Regions from separate parts of the Homo sapiens genome. Here region 2 is linked to region 1. A link means that fine-mapping ties the variant in region 1 to the expression of a gene that starts in the linked region. Tissue or cell type: whole blood. Region 1 holds a variant in brackets; the other region holds the start of a gene. All regions are shown on one strand. Distances are between the middles of the regions.

Evidence for each region. PIP is the estimated chance that this variant, and not a neighbour inherited with it, causes the effect.
Region 2: PLEKHM1 starts here. The variant in region 1 is fine-mapped to the expression of PLEKHM1 in whole blood (TOPMed, PIP 0.98).

Annotation. Positions count from the first base shown.
Region 1 is chr17:46,025,443-46,028,120 of GRCh38, reverse strand. MAPT (microtubule associated protein tau) reads right to left here. Exons shown (of 13, transcript NM_001377265.1): 13 at 1-2,678. Among named protein-coding and RNA genes, the nearest start is that of STH, 28 kb to the right of the region's middle. The variant C/T (reference allele first, on the strand shown) is at 1,140.
Region 2 is chr17:45,489,226-45,491,904 of GRCh38, reverse strand. It overlaps PLEKHM1 (pleckstrin homology and RUN domain containing M1), which reads left to right and starts at 1,184. Exons shown (of 12, transcript NM_014798.3): 1 at 1,184-1,253. LOC105369225 (a long non-coding RNA gene) reads right to left here and starts at 1,033. Exons shown (of 5, transcript XR_002958152.2): 1 at 1-1,033.

The sequences.
Region 1 (2,678 bases):
TGGGGCTAAGTCTATTAGGAGGTGAGGCTCTAGGCCAGTGCCCAGGGTAACCCTTTTCAAAGCTGAAGAGAAATCAGAAGTTTTATGAAGCTGCAGGTCTGTAGATGGGACACGCAGGTGATCACCTCTGCCCTCGCCCCGACCTCGTGGCTTTACTTGGAGAACAAAGATGAGGAGGGTGAAGCGAGTGATCTCAGCTCCAAAAGCACAGGCTGTGTGTCTGGAGCCAGTGTGAGAGGTGGCACAGAGGTGCCAACGGCTTAGAGGGAAGGATGCCAAGGTCTTAGGGAGGCATGATTGTGGGCTTAGGACCCCTGAAAGAGGGCAGCAGGCCAAAGCAACCAGATGTCCATATTCCTACGCCTGCACCTGGCTGGGGAGGGAATGAACTAGCCAGCTGCCTGGGAAAGCCTGTCAGTGGAAAAGAGAAACCCCAAGGGCCTCTAACTCCGTGGCTGCTCCCTCCCTCTAGCAAATGTGGTTGAAATCATGAAAAGGGTTACGAGGCAGTTTAAGTGCTGCACCCCAAGATCTCCCTTTGCCCATGTTAACTATCTTACACATTCCTCCCCCCTCCCCCCATAGCACAACAAGCAATAGCAAACAGGATACAGTCTCACCACTGAAGTCAATTTAAATGGAACTATTGATAAAGTGAGTCAGCAGCTTGAAGGAGCCGGCATACAGTATATCCTATCTAGCCCACCCAAGGACACTGGCTCTGCAGGTGGGAGAAGTGAGGGGAGGGGAGGAGTGCCCAGCCCTGGGGGGATTGTCCTCATTTAAGATCACAAGCCAGCGTGCCTTTTCAATTTATCTGCCAGCACTGATCACCCTAAACCATGATCTTAGGCTGGCCCCAAGAGCCTGCCCCACAAGGGGGAGATCCCAGAGCCTTCCGTATAAGAAGGCCCATGGTGCTGAAGAGCAGGGCACAAGAACTTCAGGAAGAGGAACCGAGGTGCGTGAAGAAATGCAGCCGAAACTGTTGGCAGTAATGAGGGGGGCATATCTCTAACCACCACCAAATCTACCCCACATTTCCTTCTCCTTCTCAGATCCCTTCAACTTAGGAGAATTGCTGGGACTCAGCGAACGGCAGGGAGGCTCTTGGTGGAGAGTTCTGGGCCCAGAGACTT[C/T]CTTTCAGGTAAAGCTCTAGCTGCACACGAAGCTGCCAGCCCCAGGGGAGGCCCTGGATTTCTACTGCCAAGTCCCTCAGGGTTGCCTTTAACTGTACCCAAACCAGAAGTGGCAGAATTGGGCCTGAGGCTGCTGAGTTTCTTTAGGCAGCAATGTTTTGCAAAGGCGGCTTCCCTTTTCTCATGGCAGCAGATGGAGTTTGTGCAAGGTCAGCGGGCTGAGGTGCTCTGGTCAAGGCTTTGGGAACAGTGTCTCCTGACTTGTCAAGTCATCCTTCCTCAGGCAGGCAGCTTGGGCCTCTAGAGCAGATCCAGGACAGGCAATTCATCCCAATCCCTGCTGTGGTCGCAGGGCCCTTGGTGGGAGGCTGCGCTGCCCCTCCAGAGGGCGAGCTTGGAGAGGAACCCAGTCTGAGGGGTGGCTGAGGCTCACGGAGCTTCTGGGAGCTGCAGATCCCCCCAGCTGGCAGTGGCTTCCTTTTTCTTGTGATGCAGGAGTTGTAAGCCTCCTTTGGGACTGCCATGAGACTTCGGGCTATGACCAGAGAGAACCATCCTCGCGCCGCAAGCCAGACCAGCCACAAGACCTAGTCTGTGCCCTGACACAGGGAGCCCCAAGGGGAAGTAGGGAAGGGGACATCATCGCTTCAGTCCTAATCCTGTGCTTCAGGCCTTCGTCACAGCTGAACGGCCTCCTTAGCTGCTAGAAGCTGGTCTCTGTTGGGTCCCAGGTGCTGAGGAAAGCCTTTCAAAACTTGGGAGGCCCCAGCAGGGTGGCACCACACAGGCCACACGAGTCCCAGTGTGGGGGTGAGAGACACCTCGTGAGGGTGGGTTAGAAACCTCTTTACAAGCATTTCAAGATACATGCGTCCTTTTTTTTTTTTTTTTTTCTTTTCACTATCATAGTCACTCTGGTGAATCCAAGCATAAACAGACAAATCCAACTACAACTCAACAGGGTGCAGATGGGGAGGGCAGGGCAACATCTATGTATATGTTCAGCTGCTCCAGCAGAACAGACAGCATGGCTTCCAGCTGGGACTGGGGGAAAAGAACCATTTCCAAGGGGGTGTGTTCCCCTTTGTCGGGTGTGGAGGGCTGATACTATGCATGTGGAGCTGAGCAGCGGGCTGGGCTGTCTGGGAGGTTGGCAGCTACAAGCTAGGGTGCAAGTGGGGGACAGCGGGACTGTGGGCCTGCCCTGGGTGCCTTGCCCTTCCATCCTGGTGCCACCACTGACAACCAAGACACCCAGCCTGCTGCTGTGGGCTCAGCACAGGAAGGGGCCAGGCCTTCTCAGGGGAAAGGGCTCTCTCCATGTCAACAAGGCAGAAACACCTAGGGTCACAGCTGAGCAGTGCCCTGGCTCACATCTGTGACGGGAGGAGGAGACAGGGAACCGAATCAGATCATGAGATTCGTGGTGAGGGTCCCAGTTGGATGAGTGGAACTGAGAGTGAGAGGCTGGGGTCCCACTCTTGTGCCTGGACTTTGCCTTCCCTTAATTTCACCCTCAGTATGGAGTAGGTACCTCCT
Region 2 (2,679 bases), 540 kb after region 1:
ACCCCTGTCTCTACAAAATAAACAAATTTTTTTAAAAATGAAAAGATTGGCCGGGCGCGGTGGCTCACGCCTGTGATCCCAGCACTTTGGGAGGCCGAGGCGGGTGGATCACCAGGTCAGGAGATCGAGACCATCCTGGCTAACACGGTGAAACCCCATCTCTACTAAAAACATAAAAAAATTAGCCGGGCGTGGTGGCGGGCTCCTGTAGTCCCAGCTACTCGGGAGGCTGAGGCAGGAGAATGGCGTCAATCCAGGAGGCGGAGCTTGCAGTGAGCCGAGATCGCGCCATTGCACTCCAGCCTGGGCGACAGAGCCAGACTCCGTCGCAAAAAAAAAAAAAAAAAGAAAAAAGAAAAAATTAGCTGGGCGTGGTGGTGCACGCCTGTAGTCCCAGCTGCTTGGAGGCTGAGGTGGGAGAACCACTTAGTCCGTGAGGTCAAAGCTGTGGTGAGCCGTGATCGTGCCACAGCACTCCAGTCTGGGCGACAGAGTGAGACCCTGTCTCAAAAAAAAAGCAGAAAGGAAGAAAGAAATCCTCTACACGGGCTAGAAGAGAATAACCAGACCCCTAAGCTTCAAGCCAGGCGGTGCTAATGGGCGAGTTACACACGGGAGAGTGCCCAAGGGGACCTCAAGGCGTTCCCTTGGGATAAAGTGTGGTCAAAACAGCTATGTTTATCCTGAAAGCGCAAGGCGGAGGCTCCAATTTGGGCCCGGGCTCCGCCCCACGGGCTGCACTGCTGCCCTCGGAGAGGCAAAGATAGGGCAGGCGTTATTAGTCCCACTCACAAGTGGGAACTCTTCAGCTGAGGGAGGCGAAGTGACAGCCCCAATGTTGCACAGATGGTTCTGAGGCCAAACGAGGTCAGGAACCCAGAAGCCAGGATCTAGTTTGACGCAGACCTGCGGGAGGCGGGCGGTAACGGATGCGTTCTCCCTGACACCGGTGCCTTCGCCTCTCTGCGCCCTGCAGGCGCCCCCAGTTCCCCAGCCTCCCAGACCTCGCATCTGCCCCGGGGCTCAGCTCCCAGGGACTTCCGGGAGCAGCTGGCCCCGCCCCAAGGCTCCTTCGGGCTGCGCGATTGGCACCGCGGGCCGGGGCAGGGCCGGAGCGCCGAGCCAACGTGATGGCGTCAGGGGCCGGGGCGCCGCTTCCTGTTGTCAGTGGCCGAGAGACCGCATCGTCGGCTCGGAGGCTGAGGGGCTGCCGCGGCCGGGAGCGCCCCTCGCCTCGCTCCTCGCTCCGCTTGGTGAGTTAGGGGGTCAAGATGCGAGGAGGGCGGCGGAGTGGTGGGAGGGCCGAGGCGCGAACGGGCGGTGGGCCTCCCGCTCCCTCCGCGATTCCCAGCCCCTGGTTACCCTGAGACTGCCCGGCTTCAGGGCCCTCAGCCCTGTCCAGCCCGCGCCCGCTCCTCTCCGACCCAGCCTTCCCCCTGCACCGCCGCTGTGGCCCCGTCCCCTCCGTCTGTCCAGCCCCCAGCCCGCGCCCGCATCCCCTCACCAGCGGTCTTGCTTAAATGCAGCTTCACTCGTGACCCCACTTTACCCCAGTTCCAACACCGATCTCGGCCACGTCCCTTCGCCCCGCCCTGACACACCTCATCCTCTCTCCCCACCCCTCTGGTAATCCCGATGCTCCGCGCTTACCTCCCCGAGACCCACCATTCAGGTTTCCCCTTTTCTGGCTCAGCTTTCTTATCCCAGTCACCCCCATCCCCCGTCTAGCTCCCCAAGATCTGCTCATCCCAAACATTCTACCTCCGCCCTCTCATCTAAGACCCACCCCCAAAGTAGGTGCCCTGTTGAGCTCACCGCTTTCTTCTGGATAACTCCGATCTCAGCCTTATTCCAAGTCTTAACTGTGTCTTCTCGTCCTTAGTCTCCTAGCCACTGTATACCTTCCTTTGCGTCTCCTGCCGTACTGAGGACAGCCCATCCCTAAGTCTTTGCCAAACTGTCCCGAACTCTTGCTGCCTCCTTTCCTACCACCCTCACCCAATCTTGTTAAAAATGACATCTCCATGTCCTTTCACCCCCGCTGACCCACCGCAACTCTTCACCCCAACTCTGCGTCCATTGCTTCCCTCGACCCAACTCCCATTCAACCTGAGAACTTAGTGCAGAGTCGCCTGCCAACTCCACCAGCTGCCCCTCAACAGCCAAATGTAGGTGCTCACTCAGACCCGCAGTTACAGACTGAGCAGCATGATTGGCGGGTGCAGGGGCTCAGGTGGTAAATAAGGGTGGAGGAGCAGTGGGCTCTCCCCAACTCTTGGGTGGGGCCGGGGTTTTTCCTGGCATCTGGTCTCCTGCACCTGTCCTCAGGGATTGTGTTTTTGGCATTCATATTAAATGACTTGTGCTGGCTGCTGGAATGGTAGGTATCATTCAAATATCTGGAAGGTGAGAGACGGCCACTCACTCAGCTCACTTAGCACAGAATGATGGAAGCTGTCACTTCCTTCTGGTTGGTGTTCTCGCCCTGGAGAGCTTCTGGGAAGTTCTGTGTGGTGTTGGCTGTGGTCACAGAATATTGTTCGTGTTCCTTTTCTTGGCACTTGTAAGGGCCTCTCCCTGCCAGAGCTGATGGCAGATCAGTCCTGATGCTGAATTCAGGGGATATGATGGGTGCCAGAGGCAACGTTACCTGTTGTGAAGAGTATAGGTGAGTAGGTC